7 linked regions of the Homo sapiens genome follow. The protein of the gene in region 1 purifies or fractionates together with the protein of each later gene. This does not show direct contact. Each region holds a gene or a part of one and is shown in the gene's direction. Other genes may lie near its edges. The genes, in order: RIPK2, SLK, CIB2, TLR2, CAMK4, NAT16 and IGF2BP2.

What was found.
Region 2: the proteins of RIPK2 (region 1) and SLK purify together in Homo sapiens (affinity purification with mass spectrometry; one large-scale study listed by BioGRID and IntAct). This does not show direct contact.
Region 3: the proteins of RIPK2 (region 1) and CIB2 purify together in Homo sapiens (co-immunoprecipitation; one large-scale study listed by IntAct). This does not show direct contact.
Region 4: the proteins of RIPK2 (region 1) and TLR2 purify together in Homo sapiens (affinity purification with western blotting; one study listed by BioGRID). This does not show direct contact.
Region 5: the proteins of RIPK2 (region 1) and CAMK4 purify together in Homo sapiens (affinity purification with mass spectrometry; one large-scale study listed by BioGRID and IntAct). This does not show direct contact.
Region 6: the proteins of RIPK2 (region 1) and NAT16 purify together in Homo sapiens (affinity purification with western blotting, with the first as the bait; one study listed by BioGRID). This does not show direct contact.
Region 7: the proteins of RIPK2 (region 1) and IGF2BP2 purify together in Homo sapiens (affinity purification with mass spectrometry; one large-scale study listed by BioGRID and IntAct). This does not show direct contact.

The regions. Positions count from the first base shown.
Region 1 is NC_000008.11:89,785,316-89,788,815, forward strand, and holds part of RIPK2 (receptor-interacting serine/threonine-protein kinase 2), read left to right. Parts: intron 1-1,277; coding exon 1,278-1,371; intron 1,372-3,500.
Region 2 is NC_000010.11:103,970,140-103,973,639, forward strand, and holds part of SLK (STE20-like serine/threonine-protein kinase), read left to right. Parts: intron 1-3,500. UniProt on the Homo sapiens protein: Mediates apoptosis and actin stress fiber dissolution.
Region 3 is NC_000015.10:78,107,446-78,110,945, reverse strand, and holds part of CIB2 (calcium and integrin-binding family member 2), read left to right. Parts: intron 1-1,436; coding exon of another isoform or gene 1,437-1,563; coding exon 1,564-1,711; intron 1,712-3,500. UniProt on the Homo sapiens protein: Calcium- and integrin-binding protein that plays a role in intracellular calcium homeostasis. Acts as an auxiliary subunit of the sensory mechanoelectrical transduction (MET) channel in hair cells.
Region 4 is NC_000004.12:153,687,280-153,690,779, forward strand, and holds part of TLR2 (toll-like receptor 2 precursor), read left to right. Parts: exon of another isoform or gene 1-622; 5' UTR 623-768; intron 769-774; exon of another isoform or gene 775-1,066; intron 1,067-3,500. UniProt on the Homo sapiens protein: Cooperates with LY96 to mediate the innate immune response to bacterial lipoproteins and other microbial cell wall components. Cooperates with TLR1 or TLR6 to mediate the innate immune response to bacterial lipoproteins or lipopeptides.
Region 5 is NC_000005.10:111,479,384-111,482,883, forward strand, and holds part of CAMK4 (calcium/calmodulin-dependent protein kinase type IV), read left to right. Parts: intron 1-3,401; coding exon 3,402-3,500. UniProt on the Homo sapiens protein: Calcium/calmodulin-dependent protein kinase that operates in the calcium-triggered CaMKK-CaMK4 signaling cascade and regulates, mainly by phosphorylation, the activity of several transcription activators, such as CREB1, MEF2D, JUN and RORA, which play pivotal roles in immune response, inflammation, and memory consolidation.
Region 6 is NC_000007.14:101,173,794-101,177,293, reverse strand, and holds part of NAT16 (probable N-acetyltransferase 16), read left to right. Parts: intron 1-2,482; 5' UTR 2,483-2,486; coding exon 2,487-2,798; intron 2,799-3,500. UniProt on the Homo sapiens protein: Probable N-acetyltransferase. Shows only trace activity toward L-His and no N-acetyltransferase activity toward other amino acids. The physiological substrate of this enzyme is unknown.
Region 7 is NC_000003.12:185,642,630-185,644,836, reverse strand, and holds the end of IGF2BP2 (insulin-like growth factor 2 mRNA-binding protein 2), read left to right. Parts: 3' UTR 1-1,707; downstream 1,708-2,207.

The DNA.
Region 1 (3,500 bases):
CATATAAAAATTAGCTGGGCATGGTGGCGCATGCCTGTAATCCCAGCTACTCGGGGGGTTGAGGCAGGAGAATTGCTTGAACAAGCCAAGATCGCACCACTGCAGTCCACCCTGGGCGACTCCACCTCAAAAAAAAAAACTTTGTTTCAGGTATAAAATTATTTTAAAATATTGAATTAAGTTACCTTCAGGCTGTGTGTATAAGGTGTATATGAAACATAAATGAATTTTATATTTAGACTTGGGTCCCAACCCCAAGATATCTCGTTATATATATACAAATATTCCAAAATCTGAAAAAAATCCAAAATTCCAAACACTTCTGGTTCCAAGCATTTCAGATAAGGGATATTAAACCTGTAGTATCTTTAAAACGAACCTTAAAGCATAGTATATCACATTTTTAATCACTTGATGTACAGTATTTCATTTGATCTTTGAGGCCATTCATGCATATTTTTAGATAGACAGTGCGGATAATAGAGCCAAAAACCTGAGAGCCAGAGAGGTTAAATACCTTATTGAAAGTTAGCTAGTGATTCCATGACAGAGCTAGGAGTAAAATTCTCCATTACTTTTTCCATGTTTTCCTGTGCCTCCATGTGGAAGGAACCTGAGGTGCTGAGAACAGGCATTTCTAAATCTGTAGGAGACCAGACTTGCAGATACCAAATTTCTCATTCACTATTCTAGCTACTGGCTGCAGCATCTGAGATCGTGTAGAAAATACTGAAAAAATAATTATTTCTAATGTTTCATTATTCCCCTATTTCGCCCATTTGTGTTAATTAAGAAAATAAGTTTATCTTTGTTGGTTATTTTATAGATGTATGTGTTTCTTTAATTTTGTAAAGTATAATTTTTAGTAGTTTTGTAGGTTGGGCACAATGGCTCACACCTGTAATTCCAGCACTTTGTGTGGCCAAGGCTGGTGGATCACTTGATCGCAGGAGTTTGAGACCAGCCTGGGCAACGTAGCGAAACCCCATTTCTACGAAAGATACAAAATTTAGCATGGTATGGTGGTGTGCACCTATAATCCCAGCTATTAAGGAGGCTGAGATGGGAGGTTCACCTGAGTTCAGGAGGGTGGGGCTGCAGTGAGCCTAGGTTGTGCCACTGCACTCCAGACTGGGCAACAGAGTGAGACCCTGTCTGAAAAAAAAAAATTAGTAGTTTTTATCTTCATTTGTGATAAGCCACAAACAAGAACTATTTAGAAATTAAAGCTCGATAATTTTTATTAACCTAAACCCTTTATTTTTTATTTACTTTAGGAATCATGTGGATCCTCTCAGCTCCATGAAAATAGTGGTTCTCCTGAAACTTCAAGGTCCCTGCCAGCTCCTCAAGACAATGATTTTTTATCTAGTATGTAGATTTTCCAATCATTATTTACTTGCAAGTTTTCCATTTTCTTTCAAGATCAAATTTTTGCAAGCAGTCATGATTTCTATGGAACTTTAATTTGCATATATAACTCATTTTGTAAAGCGACAGAGTCTAAAGATAGGAAAATAGTAGTGTGATATTCAACAAATACATTTAAGTTTTAAGGCATTATGTTTGGCCAGGCGCAGTGGTTCACACCTATAATCCCAGCATGTTGGGTGGCCAAGGTGGGCAGATCACCTGAGGTCAGGAGTTCGAGACCAGCCTGGCCAACATGGTGAAACCCCATCTCTACTAAAAATACAAAAATTAGCCAGGCATGGTGGTGGGCACCTGTAGTCTCAGCTACTTCGGAGGCTGAGGCGGAAAGATCGCTTGAACCTGGGAGGGAGGTTGCAGTGAGCCGAGATTGCACCACCACACTCCATCCTGGGCGACAGAGTGAGACTCTGTGTCAAAAAATAAATTTTAAAAAACAGGCATTATGTTAGACACTGCCAGAAAATGTCCGCAAAAAAATCTCTTACAAGAAAAAGGAGAAATGTTTCTAAATAACTATTATATGAGATAGTGATATAAGAGAGACGTGGATCTAGAGCTATGGTAGTACAGTGGAAGAGTAACACTGTACAAAGGACTTTCACAACAACCTTGTGAGAGAAATGTCCTCATTTTACACATTTAAGGACTCTGGATCACATAGCTAGTAGCTGGCACATCTAAGACTTTTGATAAATATTATCATGTCACTCTACTCTACCATGTTGTCATCATGAAATTATTTCTGGCTGAAGGCTGGATCTGTAATTACAAAGGATAGGCATTCCAGGCAAAAGGAACAACATACAGGTACAGAAGCAAGAAAATACAGAGAACAGTGAGTAATTTGGTTTAGCTAGTAAAGAAGGTGAATGAAAGAAGTAAGAGCTAAGTAGATTGGAGTCATATCATCAAGAATTCTAACTTTCAGCTGAACTATTTGGACTTTTTTACTTGAGTAGGAAGCAACTATTGCAATTTTTTGAGCAAGGGAGTGACATAAAATTTTTTACTTTGGGGAGATTCATTCTGGCTGGAATGTGTAGGATATTTTGAAAGGAAAAGGAAACTTGAGATGGGGAGATCAGTTAGGAGACTATTACTGTAGTACCCGTGAGAGATTATTAAGAACCGATACAGAATGAAAGAAAGGAGGGGTGGTATGTGAGATGTTATAGACAACTAGATGATAGGACTTTGTAACTTTTCACTTAGAGGAGCGATGAGAGAAAAAAGAGGTAAAGCCAAATAAATTGTTAAGCCTGGGGACTGGGAGAACATTGGTGCCATTAAAAGAAATAGAAGTTAAAACAGGCTGCATGCGGTGGCTCACACCTGTAATCCCAGCATTTTGCAAGGCCAAGGTGGGCAAATCACTTGAGGCCAGGAGTTCAAGACCAGCCTGGCCAACATGCCAAAACCCCATCTCTACTAAAAATACAAAAAAATTAGCGGGTATGGTGGTGCACACCTGTAATCCCAGCTCCTCAGGAGGCTGAGGCACAAGAATCACTTGAACCTGGGAGGCAGGGGTTGCAGTGAGCTGAGATTGCGCCACTGCACTCCATCCTGAGTGACAGAGCAAGATTCTATCTCAATTAAAAAAAAAAAAAGTTAAAACAAGTTTTAGAGTTAAGACGGATAATTATACTTTTAATGTTTTTGTTTTTGTTTTTAATTTGAGGTACTAGGAGCACACAAAGGGTTGATGGCCAGAGGGCTTTTGAAAATATAACACTAAGGTTCATGGCTGAGTGTAGTGGCTCACACCTGTAATCCTAGAACTTTGGGAGGCTGAGACAGGTGGATCACCTGAGGTCACGAGTTCAAGACCAGCCTGGCCAACATGGTGAAATTCCATCTCTACTAAAAATACAGAAATTAGCCAGTTGTGGTAGCATGCAACTGTAATCCCAGCTACTTAAGAGGCTGAGGCAGGAGAATCGCTTGAACCTGAGAGGTGGAGGTTGCAGTGAGCTGAGATCGCAACCATTGCACTCCAGCCTGGGTGGCAAAAGCAAAACTCCATCTAAGAAAGAGAGAGAGACAGAGAGAGAGAGAGAGGGAGG
Region 2 (3,500 bases), on another chromosome or scaffold:
AAGGCACATGGAAAGGGCTCAGTAAATGGTAGAAATTACTGTTATTACATTTAGAGCTCATAGATGCAAACTTTGGGATGAGATAGGGAAAGGAACCAAGAAGATAATAAACCATTTTGTTGGTTTCTAATGGCATGGGCAGACTGTGTGGAGATACTAAAGCCCTGTGTTATTCTTTCATGACACTTTCTGCAAAATGTGATCTATCTTCCTGTACTGAGACATTAATTGAAAAATTTCTGAAGAACAAGAGTCTTATTTCATGTAGTTATTTGAGCACTATAAAATTGTGTCAAGGAGAATTTCTGTGATCTTGATGACTGTATTTTAGTATGATATTTGAAGAGCACGGGCTGGCACTATTTTTTCTTTTTTCATTTCACTACTCTCTGCTTCTAAGGAGTAGGGTATGAGTTTTTTAAAAAATAAAATTTGAAATTAAAACTTATCTGTCTTCTTATGGCCTCTTTTTTCTAAAAGTTTTTGTTTTTCAAGATTCCATAGAAATTGAGGATTTATAAACTTCCTTATATTTGGAAGAAAAAGCTATGGAACCTTAACATAGTACGTAGTAGTATGTAGTAGAAAACTGTTTATAAACTTGATTCTAACTATCATTTGCTTACAGAAATTAGTAACTGTTACAAAGATTATATTGTAAATAGAGATGAGGTTGAGTATCCCATTTCCCAAATGCTTGGGACCAGAAGTGTTTTGGATTTTGGAATTTTTTGGATTTTGGAATATTTGCATTATACTTAGTTATTGAACATCTGAAATTGAAAATGCTCTAGTGATCATTTCCTTTGAACATCATGTCATGTTAGCACTCAGAAAGTTTCAGATTTTGGAGCATTTCAGATTAGATTTTCAGATTTGGGATGTGTAACCTATAGGTAATCATGTTGTGTATTTAGTCTGAGTCATTCTTCCATCGTGTACTTGTTGTATTCCTTCCACTCAGTCCAGCACTGTACACATTTAACAGTTACTTCCTTGCCTGAAAAAGCTTCACTACTTTAAATTTATTTTCTCTTTTAAAAATAGTATTATTTGACATATAAATGAAGATATGTAATATCCTTCACAATATTTTATCTTTGGGTTTCTCTTTTTTTGTTGTTGTTGTTTTGTTTGTGTTTTGTTTTGTTTTGAGATGGAGTCCCTCTCTGTCGCCCAGGCTGCAGTGCTGTGGCGCAATCTCGGCTCACTGCAACCTCCGCCTCCCAGGTTCAAGCAATTCTCCTGCCTCAGCCTCCGGAGTAGTTGGGATTACAGGCACGCACCACCGTGCCGGGCTAATTTTTTGTATTTTTAGTAGAGACGGGGTTTCACCATGTTTGCCAGGGTGGTCTTTCCTGACCTCAGGTGATCCGCCTGCCTTGGCCTCCCAAAGTGTTGGGATTAGAGGCATGAGCCACTGCCCCTCACCCCCTGCTGGATTTCTCTTGTTTTTAACAGAAAAAAAAGAATGACATAAGATTATGAATTGAATTGCATTTCTAGAAAGCTATTTTATCTATTAAACCAGTTGAAACTAAACTCTTGGCTGTGTGCTGGATGAAAGTAGTTTTTATATGACAACTGATGGCTGTGTGCCTTTTAAAAAATAGTAAAATATATAATCTTTGTATTAAAAAGTATGGAAACATATACATTTAGCAGATAATAAAGTGAATTATTATTAACAACTGTCAGTGTCAAGGAATTCTGCTAACATCCGAGAATCCCTCTTGCCTCCTTTCTGTATCTAATATCTTCTCTCTCCCTAAAGGAAACCACTATCCTATCTTTAAGTTATTCATTTATTTGCTTTTCTTAATCATTTACTATCTAGGATTATATCCCTAAATGTTATAAATTTAGTTTTGTATGCACTTGAACTTTATATGAATGGAATCATATTGAACATATTCTTTTGTGTCTTGCCTCTTTCAAAGTCAGTATTGTGTTTGTGAGGTTCATCTTTATCACATAGAGCTGTAGTTCTTTTTCGTTGTAGCATTGTATTCTATTATATGATGATATCACCAATTATTTACTATTGTACAATTAATGGATATATTGGTTGCTTCCAGTTTTTGGCTCTTACACAAAACGGTAGTTGCACATATACATGAGTTTCACTAAGAGTTAATCCAGGAATGGAATTGCTAGGTTATAGGGTAGTGTATCTTTAATTTTACCAGATGATGCCAAACTAATTATACAAGTTTACATTCCCACCAGCAGTTGAAGAATTTCCTTGCCCTGCCAGGCGCGGTGGCTCATGCCTGTATTCCCAGCACTTTGGGAGGCCGAGGCGGGCGGATCACGAAGTCAGGAGATCGAGACCATCCTGGCTAACACGGTGAAACCCCGTCTCTACTAAAAATACAAAAAATTAGCCGGGCGTGGTGGCAGGAGCCTGTAGTCCCAGCTACTCGGGAGGCTGAGGCAGGAGAATGGCGTGAACCCGGGAGGAGGAGCTTGCAGTGAGCCGGGATCGCACCACTGCACTCCAGCCTGGGCGAAAGAGCAAGACTCCGTCTCAAAAAAAAAAAAAAATTTCCTTGCTCTGCATCTTTGCTAACATTTAATATTGTCAGAATTTTAAAGTTTTGACAGGCTGATAATGTGTTACATTTCTCATTGTGCATTTAATTCACCTTTCACAGATTACTAAAAGTAATTCTTTTAATATGTTTTTGGTAATTTGAATTTCTTCTTTTGTGTTCAAGTCTCTTATCCATTTTTCTCTTGAAGTCTTTGTTTGTATGTTGATTGTGTGTGTGTACAATATATGTGTTTTGAATTTTAACCATTTGCTGGTGATAGTTATTGCTAATATAGTCTCATTCTGAGACCTGTCTTTTCATTCTCACTGTAGTGTCTTTTTATGAATTCTTTAACATGGTCCAATTTGTTAGTTTTTTCCTTTACAGTTGATGCTTTTTGTGTTATGTTTAAGACATTTCTTCCTAATGTGTGATCATGAAGATAATCTTCTATATTATCTTCTAAAAGCTTTATGATTTTGCTTTTCTTTAACAATTAGATCTATAATCTACCTAGAATAGATGTTTGTAAATGGTATGAGGTAGGGGTCCAGTTTCATTTTTTTCCCCATATGGATACACAATTGTCCCAGAACTATTTGCTGGGAAGAAAAATAATTCCCCACTGCTCTGCAGTGCCCTGTTATGTAGCATGTGTCTGTTTCTGCATTCTCCGTTCTCTTCATTGATCTATTTGTCTATTCCTATACCAGTATCCCACTGTCTTAATTAGGAAAGAATTAAAATAAATTTCTGCTGCTTCTTCAACATAGTTTAGTAGTATTGTTGGCCCTTAGGGCTTCTATGTACATTTTCCAGTTAGCCTGGTTGAGTGCCACAAAAAATCTGTGTTTTTTTGGAGAGATTTCATTGAATTTATAAATCAGTTTTGGAAAAATTAACCTCTCTTTGATATTGAGTCTTCCCACCTGTGCATGTTTTATCTCTGTTTAGGTCTTTTTT
Region 3 (3,500 bases), on another chromosome or scaffold:
CAGGCCATGGGCTTGTGCTCATTTGCTTGTCCCTTTGTTAAGTGGCCCCAAGCCTGCTGTAGTTGGCAGACCTGTGTCTGCTTTGTTAGATAACTTTTCTGTCTCCCCGTTGTCTGGCTGTGGCTTCTCACTGAGGTCAGCATGGTGGTCATCCATAGCATCATTTCTCAGACTTTAACGTACCTGTTAAAATTTAATTTTAAACTCCCCAGGGATCTTGTCCAAATGCCAATTCAGGCTCAGTACATGTGGAGTAGAGTCAGGATTCTGCTTTTCGAGCAAGTTCCCAGGTGAGACTGATGCTGCTGATCCTCAGACCATATATATCTGAATGTTTCGTTTCATGAGTTCCTTATCCATAATATGTAAAGTGCATTCAGCATTAAGAAGGCATTTGGGGCACAACTCCCCATTGCAGTGGGACTTCGTCAGTAGCCCCTTGCCAGGCCTGGGATGTGTGGCTTGAAGGTGGAGTCAGAGTGCTATATGGCATCCACTTGGGGCCTGCACTCTGGTTGTGACCTCAGTCCTGAGAGACAATGGGCCCCAGGCTCAGCCCTGGACCAGCACCCCGTCTGGCCCAGCAAGGGGCTCAAGAGCAAGCTCAGAGGGTTGCTGGAGCAGGTGAGACACTCATGGGTAGGACCCAAGTGGTCTGTCTCTGAGCCTCCCGCACTGGCCTGGGCTGGGCACGGAATGGCGCTAGCCAAGCGCTAGCTCAGTTGGGATGGAAGGGCTGCAGGATGAGTGATTTGGGGATCTAGGAAGGCATCCGTGTACAGCTCCCTGGGAGAGGCAGCATCCAAGGTGGTCTAGGGGAGAATTCACAGGAGCAGAGTGACAGCAGACCTGGGCCTGAACTGGCTGTATGGCTCTTGCTGCTTGACTGGTCCAGTTATCTGACCCCACATCCACCTCCCACGATCCTGGCCTGACACGGCCTGAGCTGAGGGCCACCAGTGCCCTGGGCTGTCATCTTCTTCTGCTGGGGACAGAGCCCTACACATCCAGGCAGAGCCTCTGTGTGCTCTTCTGGGTAACAGGACGAATCTGTGCTTCTGCTTCTGCTTCAGATGAGGCAGTGCCTCCAGTGATAACACACTGGCTGTGCTCAGCATTTTTTTTTTTTTTTTTTTTTGGAGACATGGTCTTGCTCTGTCGCCCAGGCTGGAGTGCAGTGGGACGATCATGGCTCACTGAAGCCTCAAACTCCTGGGCTCAAGTGATTCCTCCACCTCAGTCTCCCAAATAGCGGGACTACAGGCGTGCACCACTGTCCCTGGCTGTGCCCATCTTAATGATGTGACATGACCCAGTAGAATGCTTCCTGAGCTCTTACATGTGCCGGGCCTGGTACCAACACCTTACATACTTTAGCTCATTTAATCCCATCACAACCCAATTAAGAAGGTGTTATTATTATTCCCTTTTTACAGATGGGGAAACCGAGGCTCAGAGGGATTTGGTCACTCCTCCAGGGTCACACAGGCTGTCCACAGTCTGGCTCCGGGGCCCTCCTGCTTATCCTGCACCCACAGTGATTGCTGTGTGTGTTTTCTTCAGGAGAATCCCTTCAAAGAAAGGATCGTGGCGGCGTTTTCCGAGGATGGTGAGGGGAACCTCACTTTCAACGACTTTGTGGACATGTTTTCCGTGCTCTGCGAGTCGGCTCCCCGAGAGCTCAAGGCAAACTATGCCTTCAAGATCTATGGTAACCAGGGCTAGAGGAGGGGGCCTGAATATGCGGTGGGGGAACATGTGGGGCCCTTAGGCTGTCTGGTTACTACTGGCTCCTGCCCTAGGGACACCAAGAACAGTGAAGCTGATCTGTCCTCTGAAGAGTGCCTGTCCAGTGGGGTGGCCAAGGGAGACGATCAGTCCCTGAGAGACATCTGTGAGGGTCCTGAGAACGAAGGAGGGAGGGACTCACCCATCCCAGGTCGGGTGGTTAGTGTGAGAGGGGTCCCAGGCATGACCTTTAAGCAGGGACTAGCAGAGGCTTGGACTGGAGAAGAGGGGGCTGGCAGACCTGACAGAGGGCGCAGCCCATGCAGACACAGGGAAGCGCAGAGCTTGATAAGGAGATGGGAGGAACTTGGAAGGTGGTGGGACAGGGGGCGGTATGAGTCTGGAGAGAATCTGGGGCCAGGCTGTGGGAGCCAGCCACAGAGTTTGGACCTAGTGATCCAGACACCAGGGCCACTGCAAGGTTTCCAGTGAGGAAGGGCAGCTCTGTTTTCTAGAAGGATCACTCAGCAGCTTTGAGGTGTAAAATGGAGGAGCCAGAGAGGCTGCCTAGGCCATGGTGGTAAGGCCAGGCCTGCAGGGGGGCCTCTGGAGCCCCCCCGAATACTGCCTGAGGTAGGGCCACCTGGATTCACCCCGCCCAGCTCTGCCCTCAGGCTGGCTGTCTCACCAGCCACCAGAGGGCGGCGGGCACTCATGAGCCAAGGACTCATGCTTCTCCCACAGCCACAGGGAGAAAACTTCATACCCACGAGCTCACCCCCTCTGCTGGCCTGACAGACCCATGGGGACTGGTGTCAAATCCTCAGATAGACCTCAGTTGAGATGCCTAAGGCCTAGGAAGGGGCTGGGACCCAACTTGGACCTGAAGAGTCAAGGTCAAAGCTCCTGTCCTCAGCACGTTTGATCAGACACTGGATCCCAAAGGCAGCAGGGCCTATCAGGGGCTGACATTTTGCTTTCTTTTTTCTTTTCTTTTCTTTTTTTTTTTTTTTTTTGAGACAGAGTCCCACTGTCGCCCAGGCTGGAGTGCAATCGTGTGATCTCGGCTCACTGCAACCTCTGCCTCCCGGGTTCAAGCGATTCTCTTGCCTCAGCCTCCCAAGTTCAAACGATTCTCCTGCCTCAGCCTCCTGAGTAGCTGAGATTACAGGTGCCCGCCACTACACCTGGCTAATTTTTGTAATTTTAGTAGAGATGGGGTTTCACCATGTTGGTCAGGCTGGTCTCGAACTCCCGACCTCAGGTGATCTGCCTGCCTTGGCCTCCCAAAGTGCTGTGATTACAGGTGTGAGCCACCACGCCCAGACTGACGTTTCACTTTCTAGTTATCATGTTTATTTCAGAGGACTTTGGTTTCTGTCTGTGCACCCACGTTTTGCTTGCATATTAGAAAGAAAATACCTGCCAGTCTGCCCTCCACAAACTATGCCCACATGGCTCATGTAAAAAGCTTCTCAGATTCCACCCAACATCCGCCCGGTCTTGGACCCCATAGCATTGCTCCTGGGACGGGCTGCTGTCTGCCCAAGACAGGGGCGTGCAGATCGCATGGACCGGGTGGGCACAGGAATACATGGAAGAACTGTGGCTTCCTTGCTGCTCTAGGCTGGGGGTGGAGTGGGGAGAGGCAGCCAGGGCCCTCCTAGTCTGGCGCTGGGGAGGCCTGGGGCCTCATTTGCAACAATGATCATCTCACTTCTGAGCCTCAGTTTACTCAGGTTAAATGGCCACAGGAATTCAGCCAGCCAGCC
Region 4 (3,500 bases), on another chromosome or scaffold:
TAAAATAAATCCAGAGAAATCAGAACAGGGGAAATAATAATATAAGAATAGAAATTAATGTGCTAGAAAATAGGGGATCTATCAAGTCAGAAGTTGATTTTTTGAAAATGCTAATAAAAATGATGAACCTCTGGCAAGACAATAAAAGCTGGTACAAATAACTCATCTAAGGAATAAAATTGAGGACCTCTCTTTTGTTAAATGACATAAGCAGGAGGCCATTATCCTGAGACTGTCTCTACACTTTGAGTTCTTACATAATAAACTGCAACCTAATTTAGTATACTACATAAACAAACTGAAACCTAACTTAGGAGCTTTTTTTTTGTAATTAATAGCTAAATTTCCACCAAATCATAAATAGCCAAGCTTTAGCCAATCACAGGCAGCCAACTGATCAGACTATGCCCAAACAAGGTAAATGCCTATTACACCATACCCAAATAAGGCAGACTCCTAGCTGAAGCCAATCAGGTGATTACTATGCTCTTGTGTTTGGCCTATAAAAGCTCACTGCTCACACTGTTGGATGCTCTCTGAAACTTTTGTGAATCTGAGTGCTGCCTGATTCATGAATCATTCTTTGCTAAAATAAACTCTGTCAAATTTAATTTGTCTGAAGTTTCTCTTTTAACAGTGTTTGGTGTTGCAAGCAGGATCCAAAGGAGACCTATAGTGACTCCCAGGAGCTCTTAGTGACCAAGTGAAGGTACCTGTGGGGCTCATTGTGCCCATTGCTCTTTCACTGCTTTCAACTGGTAGTTGTGGGTAAGTTCCTGCTCAGACTTGAGCACTATACATTTGCATTTTCAGCTCTCTGACTTTATTTGAGCAATTCTTTGATGGATTGGCTCCAGAATTGGATTGGATTCAGTGAAGAAACTGAAACTGGACTGGTGCTCTAGGAGGCCTCAAGTAGATAAGGTTACTAGAAGACAGGGAATCCTGGGCTTATCTGGATTTAAGGAGTCTACAACTCCATCTGCAACTCCAGCCGATTTCATTTATAAGAATTATGGACCAAGAACCTGTGCTTTTCTAGAGAAATGTGTGAGCCTTACTAAAGGTAACTTAGAATTACAATGGACTGCTGAGACCAGCTCGGTCGTGGAGACCCTAACCCAGCAGCGCTAGAGGAATCAAAGACACACACACAGAAATGTAGAGTGTGGAGTGGGAAATCAGGGGACTCACAGCCTTCAGAGCTGAGAGCCCCTAACAGAGATTTACCCACATATTTACTGACAGCAAGCCAGTGATAAGCATTATCGCTATAGATTATAGATTAACTAAAAGTATTCCTTACAGGAAACAAAGGGATGGGCCGAAACAAAGGGATAGGCTCTGGCTAGATGTCTGCAGCAGGAACACGTCCTTAAGGCACAGATTGCTCATGCTATTGTTGTGGCTTAGGAACACGTTAAGCGGTTTTCTGCCCTGGGTGGGCCAGGTGTTCCTTGCCCTCATTCCAGTAAACCCACAACCTTCAGCGTGGGCGTCATGGCTGTCACAAACATGTCACAGTGCTGCAGAGATTTTGTTTATGGCCAAATCTGGGGCTAGTTTATGGCCAGGTTTGGGAGCCTGTTCCCACATGTCCCCCTTTTTTGTTTTGCAAAGCAATAAAAGCAAAGGCAGCTTTGTCACAGTGAGCTACTTCTTGCAGGAGTCGGGATTCGCATATGCATACTATACAAAGACAAACAACACAGATTAAAAGCACAACCATCATTGAAATCACAGAGCTTCCAAGTGTCTTTATCTATTTTAATGGGTTAATCACTGCTAATCTGTCTGCAGCTCCTTCAAGCACTCCAGTTCCTGGCATTAAGGTCTGGTGTGCCTGGAATGCTTTAAATATTTGTTCTTTTAATATTGCAATATGGAAAGACAAGTTTGTAGAGTGTCTTCTAGGTGCTTTTTTATTCTTTCCTGAATTTGGTCTTATTTAAGAGCCATTAATAGTTTCCACAAATCCTTATGTTTAGCTCCTACAGCGGGCCATATCATTTGAGGGTGAGGTGCCACTATACCATCATGTTTCCAGATAATAGGAACTCTTGCCATATTTCTTGCTATTTCTACCATCTGACCATTTTGTTTAGACCAGCTAAACATAGTGTGGCCATGGCACGCAGACTGAGAGGTGCAATTTAAGCTAAACATCCCCTTAGGGGACCAATCAATAATGATTCCATAGGAATCACTGCGCAGCACCTCTGCCTATTCTGCAATGCAATCTTCCCAAACAAGTATGTTCATTATTTCTGGCCAGGTCCAATTCTGTTTACAAATAGGTTTTTGAGGGCAATATGCCTCAATTATAGAAACAGATTTATTATGGTAAATACTGAGATCAGAAAGCATGTGTAACTGTGTCATAGAATGATTACATCCAGGCATTATTGCCAGCCAAGATTGATAAATATGCCCAATAAGTATAATTGTTCTCTGTGTTAGCCCTTGTTGAAGGAATACTAATGGCAATGGTGATCACTGCTATCATAGCTATCATTAAATTACTCATTGTGACTGGTTGTCCCACTTTCCTCAGGTTTTCTTCCACCCTCTATGGCAGTTTCTTGATCTGTCCCCAGGTAGATGGCTGTGTTTGATGGTTGTTGCTCGTGATAGTTTGGGTCCTCCTCAGCATCAGTCTCGACATGGCTGCAACCAGAGGGTCCTCGGGATCCTCCCAGAATCTCTTCCTTGGCATCTGGCTCATGATAAGGTTTCAGGTGTCTTGATGGTATCCAAATCAGCTATTGATTCTGGCCTGGAGAAACACAAGCATAACCTCTACCCCAAGTTATTATTTTACCTATTTCCCAACTTTTTGTTGTCAGATCTCTGCACCAAGCCAGTTGTTCTGCTTCTGTTTTTGCAGCTGGTTTCTGTAGATGCTCTTCAGCTGCTGATAGCATCTGGCCTTTAGGCAGGCTCAAAAAATTTAAAGTCATTAATGCTAGATTCAGTTGTATATGGGGTGTCCTGTAATCCCTGTTTCCCCTTTTTGCTTTTGCAACTGCTGTTTCAGGGAGAGATTCATTCTTTCTACAATGGTTTGTCCTTGAGAATTATATGGGATGCCAGTAATGTGTTTAATATTCCATATAGAGAAAAATGTAGCTAGAGCTTGGCTAGTATAGCCTGGGGCATTATCTGTTTTAACAGAAGTTGGAATTCCTATCACCACAAAACACTGCAAAAGGTGATGCTTAACACATGCAGTCTCCTGATTGGCATGTAGCCCAGACAAAGTGAGAAAAGGTGTCCACACATACATGTACATAAGCTAGTCTCCCAAACGAGGGAACGTGTGACATCCATTTGCTAAAGATAATTAGGTTCCAATCCTCGAGGATTAACTCCTCCTGTTAAAGATGAGGAATGCACCATTTGGCAAGTTGGGCATCACTGGATAATAGCTTTAGCTTCTTTCCAGGTACTGTTATATCTGCATTTGAGACCAGAGGCATTAACATGGGTTAAATTGTGAA
Region 5 (3,500 bases), on another chromosome or scaffold:
CCTTCTGGGGAGGTCACTCACCTCTTATAAAATAAAGAGGATGCTAACATGAGATTGAAACATTTCTCATCAATCCACTAGAGAACAACCACACAGACATAATCAAAAGCTGACTTTTGAATCATAGAAGGTTAGATATAGAAGAGGTCTTAGGAGGCATCTAGTCCTCCTCTCATTTTAAAGATGAGAATGCTAAAGACCAGAGAGGTGAAATGACTGCTAAGGTCACACAGCTTCCCAGCAGAAAGACATTATTAGGGCTGATCCAGTCGTCCAGACTCCCTTTCCTGTGCTCTTTTTTCTTCAAGCATTTCTTCCTTACCCTCTGTGTTCCTTCATGGAACAGATTCCCTAAGGCTCATGGCTTTTCCAGCATGAGTGGGAAGAGAAAGTCAGTGTGTGTGATGTGTGATGTATAAATATGTCATTGCAACTCCTTCCTCAAGTCATACCCCATGCTCCTAAACACCTCTTGAATCCATCCAGTTCTCTCCCCCGGACCACTGCCCCAACCTCCTATCTGACCTCCCTGCCTCTTCTCATGCCTTTCTCAAATACAGTCTGTACAGGATCCAGAGGGATGGTCTTATAAATAAATCGCATCATGTCCTTGTCCTGCTTTAAGAATCTTAGGATAAAATCCAAAACCCATAACAAGATCTACATGACGCTGCCTGGTCTGGGGCCTGCCACTCTCTCCTGTGCCATCACTCACTTCACATCTCTCCCCTTTGATCACTTTTCACTCTAGTGCACCACACTTCTAGTTTCTCATCAGCATAGCTCAGGATATTGCCATGGCTCTTCTGCTCTGTAATGTTCTTTCTTCCTCCCCACCTTCTTCTCCATTACACATAGGCATGTAAACACACACACACACACACACACACACACACACACACACACCCCTGGGTAACTCTTATTCTCAAGCCCCAGCTGCCACTAGATATCCCTTGGGAGGCATGGTCGGCCTTCCCCTTCAGTCCCTCCCACCTATAGTTGGTTCCTTCTGCCAAAATCTTCCTTTACCCCCTGCACTCCCCAGTTCATAACAGTCATCACTTATATATTTAATGGTCCTCCTTAATTAGATTTTAAGCTCTGGGGCAGGACAAAGCGTGTGTACCCAGACCTTAGAACCACATAGGCATATAGGACTGACTCAGTAAATGTTTATTGGATGAAACAATGGATCTGGAAGTACACCGTGAAGTTTCAGAGTCTGACACACCTGGATTTAAGTGCCCCCTTTGTCATGTCCTGGAAGTGTAACCTCAGGCTCATGATCTAACCTTGCTATGCTTTAGTTTTCTCATCTAGGATGATAATTGTACCTATCTCTAGGTCGTTGTGAGAATTAAGGAACATAATATATGTTAAGTAACTAATATCAACTAACTTAATAATAGTAATCTTATTTAGCCCTCCTTCCATTTCTTTTCACCCTTAATAAATATTAAGTGAATAAGAGGGTTAGCTTTGATGTTCCTTCATTCAGCTAGATCCCTTGTTAGTTTATCACTGCTTAAAACTTCAGAACTGGAAGAATCCTTGAGCTCCATAAATGTATACTTACTAGCAAAACCCACATCTGTTGTGTCATCGGCAGAGACTAAGTGCTAAGGAGTTGGGGAATTGGATGTAAGGGGTACTGCAGGGTAATGGCAAGGCTTTGAGTGTGATTATAACCTTCAGAAAGTTTCCTAATAATTCAGTTAGGATTGTTATCAATATCTTCAAATGTAAAGATTAACAATGGTGTATATAAATTTTTGGTGCACATTGACTTTCAATAAATTCTTTGTATTTTTGTGAGGAAGATAGTAATGAGGAGGGAGAGGAGAAAAATGATTGGAAAAGAAAAAGAAAATACCTAATTGTCAAAAATGTTGTAAGGATTAGGGCTCATTTACATAAAATTATTAGTAGTCCTGTTCAACGGATAATAGCCATGACTACTATCAGATTTTTATTTACTACCATGCCTTCTTTCTCTTAACCATCCTACCTTCCTCCATGTCCTCTCAGATTTTAAGCCTAAAGAGCCTCATGTCTCTGCCCACTACAAATCTAGCCCAAACACACATTCTTTTGCAGAAAGGAAGTGAAGAGAGAACCAGATAGTATTTATTCCTCATTTGACTTGCCGCCTGATTTCCTTAGCCTATGTTCACGTCTCCTTAGGTAATTAGAGTTAGAAAAGACCTGAGACCTACAATCATTCAAAGCTCCTTATTTTGCACATGAGCAGGCCAAGGTACAGGGAGATTGACCACCTTGGAGACATCATGCTGTAGTGGCCACAAGATGCGCTCTGACATACACAGACCTGAGTCTAAATACAGGCTCCATCAATTCCAAATTGTCTGACCTGAGGCAAGTCACTAAATCTTTCTGAGCTACCCTGCTTCCCTCATTTATGAATTGGCACTAGTAGTTCCAAATGATAAGGCTGCTAAAAGATTACATGAGTTTTTAAAAAGTTATATATGCATCTAAGAAGCAATTACAAAGGAATTAAAGTGGAAATAAGATTCTGTAAGGAAAGAGCCTGAGGGGGTGTCCACAGGCAATTTATATATTTGTCTATATCTAGGGTCACAAAAGTGGCGAGTGGCATAACCAGGGCTTGAACACACTTCCTGACTCCCAATAGTCTCTGCCTCATATCAGGTCACCCCTACTAAGCCCAGGACTGTGGATTATTTTATTTGCTGACCTTCCTGGGAATTTATTGACTGCCCATCCTCACAAGCAGGGGTAAACCTCCAAGAATGGGCTGCCATTGATTGGATTCCATTCTTTAGGCAAATCATGCCCTCAAGCCACTGACTTCTTGGATTATAAAATGATTTTTAAACTCTGGGCTTAGTCCTTCAAGTACCCTCAAGGGGTTAGAAAGAACTATAAACCCCAAGATAGAAACATAAGGTAGTATTCCATAAGTTCTGGGATACTCTCCCTTTTGTTTGCCATTTAATCCCCACAGAAAGAATGATGATGCATGAATGATTCCATTCTGTTACCATAGAGATGTACTTTAAGTTCTGAATTCTAGGTGATTGTGAAGCGCAGCCCAGAATTATTTTGCTGGTTCTGCCTTCAAAGAACTTCCAGTCCACAGGCAAGTGAGGAGCTGTTTCTTGACTTCTGTTGGAAAGCCGTCTGCCACTTTGGGGGTCTCAGGTGGTACATGGCCCTGTCTTCTCATACTCCCTCAGCTACTGCTACCTGAAGCTGTGCCTACCTACAGTGGCCCCTGAGGACTTAAACAATTTTTTTCTCACATATATTTAGTGGTACTGCTGGGAAATGGAATAAGATCTGGAAGTTTGTAAGCTGAGGGCAAGCCCAGGTCATCCTAAAAACCTCGCTAAGTTTATGGTTCTTTATTATTTCAGGTCAGAAAATTAATTGTTTTGGATCCAAAGAAACGGCTGACTACATTTCAAGCTCTCCAGCATCCGTGGGTCACAGGTAAAGCAGCCAATTTTGTACAC
Region 6 (3,500 bases), on another chromosome or scaffold:
GAAGCCAAGGAAACTTAACTTTTAGCCTGGCTCTGCCCAGACTGAGTCACCTCGGGCAAGGCTCTTAATCTCCTTGATTATGAAATGAATGGGTTGAACCTGATGGTCTCTAATGGCCCCAGCAGAGGATCTAAATCCTCTGAGCCTGGCTTCCTCCTCTCTGATAATTCTGGCTCCATATCCAGGTAATCTCCAGGTGTTGGAATCAGATGAGAAAGAATCAGAAAACAAAGAGGGAGATAGAACTCTTGTCTTGAAGCTTGGTTTGTATAGCAAGCATACCGCGTTTAGGCAAGCTCTGTTTATGGCTTGGAAGTGCAAACCACTCCTTGGTCCCACTGCTGGTCAACCTTCCCCAAACCTAGGTAAGACTTTTGTTAAAAAAAAAAATAAAAATTCCAGTTAAGTCAATAAGTCAATATCACCCCCACAGAATAGCTGGTCTGTGTGCCCTTGGGATGTTGGTTAATGAGGCTTAACGTAGGTTATCTGAGGTGAGCATTATCATTGGCTGAAAGAGAGAGGGGGGATTTGATTGGTTGATTTGGCTGATCTGGAAGAGACAGGCCCAGAAATAGAAGTTGCTGGGACTTGGATAGGGGGCTTTCTCTTTCATTTTGGTGGAGCTCCGACAGAACACTTTTCAAACAATTCCTAGTCCTGGAGTGGACAGAGCCCAAGTCTCCCTATGGGGAAGAGGGGCAGAAGGAAGGAAAGGGGCGGGGGCGGGGGGCATTGATTGGCTTAGAAAGAATGGTTTGACATTTTCTTCTTCTTTTTTTTTTTTTTTCTTGAGACAGAGTCTCACTCTGTTGCCCAGGCTGGAGTGCAGTGGCTCAACCTCGGCTCAGGCTCACTACAACCTCTACCTCCCGGGTTCAAGTGACTTTTGTGCCTCAGCCTCCCTAGTAGCTGGGATTACAGGTGTCCACCACCATGCTTGGCTAATTTTTGTATTTTTGGTAGAGATGGGGTTTCATCACGCTGGCCAGGCTGGTCTCGAACTCCTGACCTCAGGTGATCTACCCGCCTCGGCTGAGCCGCCATGCTAGGCTGGCTTGACATTTTCTAGTGGAGCTATCTATCTTGTTTATATTTGAATGTGTATGTCAAGAGGTGGAGGTGGGGGGACAGGGAACTGGGGCAGCAATATGGAGGATATTTGGGGTCTACACCCTCCCCCTTGGCCCTGGCTGGGATTGTAGCTGGTAGTGGCAGGAAATGGGGTGAGGGTGAGCCCTCCACTGTTCTCTGGGAACTTTCTTGTGGACAGAGGGGTGACAGTGGGAGTTTCTTTCTCATGTTGTCCTTGCAGAGGTCTTAGAGAGGTGATGGGATCCTTGAAGGAGTGTGCCTCTTTTTTTTTTTTTTTGACACAGGTTCTCTCTCTGTCACACAGGCTGGAGTGCGGTGGTGTGATCCCGGCTCACTGCAACCTTTGTCTCCTTGGCTCAAACGATCCTCCCACTTCAGCCTCAGAGCAGCTGGGACTACAGGCCCACTGCACCACCATGCCTGGCTAATTTTTTTTATAGACAGAGTCTCACTATATTGCCCAGGCTGTTCTTAAACTCCATGACTCAACCAGTCCACCTGCCTTGGCCTCCCAAAGTGCTGGGAGTACAGGCATGAGTTTCCGTGTCCAGCCTTCTTCTTCTTTTTTTTTTTTAAAACTACCCCCAAGTGCCTTTTTTCTTTTGCCTGGGTCCCTGGATCTGGGGCTGGTCTATGGGGATCTCACAGGGTTCTAAGTTTCTGACTGTTAGGGAGCATCCCATAAGAGTGGGGTGGGTAGAGCTGAGATTTCTGAAAGCTGGTGGGAAGAGGGAGGGAGCTGGGAGACCTCCACTCCCAGGGTCTGTGTGGACAGCAGAAAAGAAAGGGTGTGGGCCAGGTAGAGTGGCTCACACCTGTAATCCCAGCACTTTGGGAGTCCAAGGTAGGAGGATCTCGAACCCAGGAGTTCGAGACCAGCCTGGGCAAAGTAGTGAGATCCCTATCTGTATTAAAAAAAAAATAAGAAGAAGAAATGAAGAAAGGGGCCAATGTGGTGGCTCACACCTGTAATCCCAGCACTTTGGGAAGCTGAGGTAGGAGGATCGCCTGAAGTCAGGAATTCAAGATCAGCCTGGACAACATGGTGAAGCTCCGTCTCTACTAAAAATACAAAAATTAGCCAGGCATGGTGGCACGTACCTGTAGTCCCAGCAACTCAGGAGGTGAAGGCAGGAGAATAGTTTGAAGCGGGGAGGCAGAGGTTGCAGCGAGCCGAGATCGCGCCACTGCACTCCAGCCTGGGCGGCAGAACGAGACTCCGTCTCAAAAAATAAATAAATAAATAAGTAAATAAGTAAATAAATAAAAGAAAAGAAAAAGAAAGGCTATTTGTGTAGGAAGGGGCATTAGGACCGTTTGTGTGCAGGGGCCCAGATGTGGAAACAAAGGGGCTGATCCAGGTGCTGAATTCTCTTTTTTTCTGCAGGGTCATGAAGCTGGAAGCCAGCTGTGGCACAGCCACCTCAGAGGTCCCTAAGCCGGAAAAGAAGACTGCCCGAGATGCAGAGCCAAGCTCTGAAACCCGGCCACAGGAGGTGGAGGCCGAGCCCAGGTCGGGATCGGGGCCTGAGGCTGAGGCCGAGCCATTGGACTTCGTGGTGGCCACGGAACGGGAGTTTGAGGAAGTGCTGGCCATCTCGGGGGGCATCTACGGCGGCCTGGACTACCTTCCTAGCCGCTACCACAGCTGGCTCCGGGACCCCGACCGCACGGTGGTGCTGGCCAAGCGCAACGGAGGCGTGGTGAGCCCGGGGGCACGGCCCAGGTGACATGGGGTGAAGCCACCTGCGGGTGCGTGGATCTTAGGAAGAGGAGGATGAGAGCTTCTCCCCAGCCTTCCTCTGGAGGCTGCGGAAATAGAGCCTGCTTTGGGACCAAAGTGCAGGGCGTGCAGTGCGGATCCAGGGGCTATGTCAGTGAGGGTGGGGTGGAGGACTCCTAAAGCAGAGGAACCAGAGGGACAGGTGAGCGTTTGAAAGTTCGAGGATCCACCGGAGGAATTTCTGGGGGTAAAAGCAAAGGAGGTGGGGAGCAGGAGAGAGAGGGTAGGCTAGGGGTGGGAGCAGGAAGAGCTTAGATTTGGGCTGGGGGAGGAGCTAAGAGGAAGTGGGGCGTGGCAAACTCCCGGGGGAGGAGCCAAGGAAGGGGCGTGGTGAGCGGTCCGGAACTTGACACACTCGGAGCTGGAGCATCTCAAGAGGTGGAAGGGGCCGGGCGCGTCGGCTAACTCCTGTAACCCCAGCTCTTTGGGAGGCCGAGGCAGGAGGATCACTTGAGGCTAGGAGTTCCAGACCAGCCTGGGCAACATGCGAGACCCCTGTCTCCAAAAAATAAAAATAAATAAAAAGCCGAGAGTAGGGGTGCGTGCCTGTTGTCCCAGCTACTAGGAAGTCTTGGGGGTGTAGGGGATCGCTTGAGCCCAGGAGTTTGAGGCTGCAGTGAGC
Region 7 (2,207 bases), on another chromosome or scaffold:
TGTCAACAGAAGGGATACCGTCTCCTTGAAGAGGAAACTCTGTCACTCCTCATGCCTGTCTAGCTCATACACCCATTTCTCTTTGCTTCACAGGTTTTAAACTGGTTTTTTGCATACTGCTATATAATTCTCTGTCTCTCTCTGTTTATCTCTCCCCTCCCTCCCCTCCCCTTCTTCTCCATCTCCATTCTTTTGAATTTCCTCATCCCTCCATCTCAATCCCGTATCTACGCACCCCCCCCCCCCCAGGCAAAGCAGTGCTCTGAGTATCACATCACACAAAAGGAACAAAAGCGAAACACACAAACCAGCCTCAACTTACACTTGGTTACTCAAAAGAACAAGAGTCAATGGTACTTGTCCTAGCGTTTTGGAAGAGGAAAACAGGAACCCACCAAACCAACCAATCAACCAAACAAAGAAAAAATTCCACAATGAAAGAATGTATTTTGTCTTTTTGCATTTTGGTGTATAAGCCATCAATATTCAGCAAAATGATTCCTTTCTTTAAAAAAAAAAAATGTGGAGGAAAGTAGAAATTTACCAAGGTTGTTGGCCCAGGGCGTTAAATTCACAGATTTTTTTAACGAGAAAAACACACAGAAGAAGCTACCTCAGGTGTTTTTACCTCAGCACCTTGCTCTTGTGTTTCCCTTAGAGATTTTGTAAAGCTGATAGTTGGAGCATTTTTTTATTTTTTTAATAAAAATGAGTTGGAAAAAAAATAAGATATCAACTGCCAGCCTGGAGAAGGTGACAGTCCAAGTGTGCAACAGCTGTTCTGAATTGTCTTCCGCTAGCCAAGAACCTATATGGCCTTCTTTTGGACAAACCTTGAAAATGTTTATTTAAAAAAAAAAAAGATGACAAAGAAAAACAGAGAGAGAGAATATTGGAGATGTCCTGAATTTTAATAGGGTACGCGCCATTAGGGCTTTTTGCGCTAAAGGATGAACATGTACTGGTTTATGTGGACAAGCCATTATACCACCAGACTGCAATGCCAGTTTCCTCTACTGCAAACAGTGTTCTGTGACAAAAAAAAAAAAAAAAAAAAGAAAAAAAAAGAAAAAACAGAAATATATCCAGCTAACAAGATCCTGGTGTCTTGGTGTTTTATTTTACTAGGCATTGCCTCATCCCAGGTGTCAGCTGAGTCCTAGCTCTGAGGGACCTGGGCAGACAGGCGGTAGGTGTGACCTGGATCCACACAGCTACTCTGAGAAAGCTGGTTTTGCCCAGGAAAGTCTTTGGGAGAAGCTAAACTAGATCGGTGGTCAAAGTGTAGTCCCCAGACCAGCAGCATCAGCTATCATCTGGGAACTTGTTAGAAATGTAGATTCTTGGGGTCCACCTTGAATCAGAAATCCTGGGGGTGAGGCCCAGCAACCTTTTCAGCAAGGCCTCTGGGTGATTGCTGTGCGCACTGAAGTTTCCGAACCTCGGAGCTAGAGGGATGGATCGACTGCATGTCAAGCTAGAGAAGACCAGTCTATCCTTAAGGAACTGCAAGCCTGGCCAGGCAAAGCTGCTTTTTAAGTGGAGGAAAGGGGGAGGATAATATGCCCGGCAGTTCCGGGAAGAGGCACTTCACGCCTCCACGGGAAGCTCACTAGTAAGTGCAGGCATACCTCAGGAACGTCGCAGGTTCAGTTCCAGACCACCACAGTAAAGCGAACTTTGCAATAAAATGAGTCATACACGTTTTAGTGTCTCACTGCATGTGAGTTATGTTTACACTGTATTAAGTGTACAATAGCATTATGTCTAAAACAGTGGGTTTTTTTTGTTTTTTTTTTTTTGACACAGAGTCTCGCTCTGTCGCCCAGGCTGGAGTGCAGTGGCACGATCTCAGCTCACTGCAACCTCTGCCTCGTGTATTCAAGCAATTCTCCTGCCTCAGTCTCCCGAGTAGTTGGGACTACAGGCATGTGCCACCCCACATGGCCATTTTTTGTATTTTTACTAGAGACGGGGCTTCACTGTGTTAGCCAGGACGGTCTCAATCTCCTGACCCCGTGATCTGCTTGCCTCAGCCTCCCAAAGGGCTGGGATTACAGGCGTGAGCCACTGTGCCCGGCCCAACAGTGTACATATCTTAATTAAAAATAATTTATTGCTAAAGAATGCTAACGATCATCCGAGCCTTAGGCAAGTTGTACTCTTGGCTAGTGAAGAGTTTTGCCTCAATGTTGATGGCTGCTGAC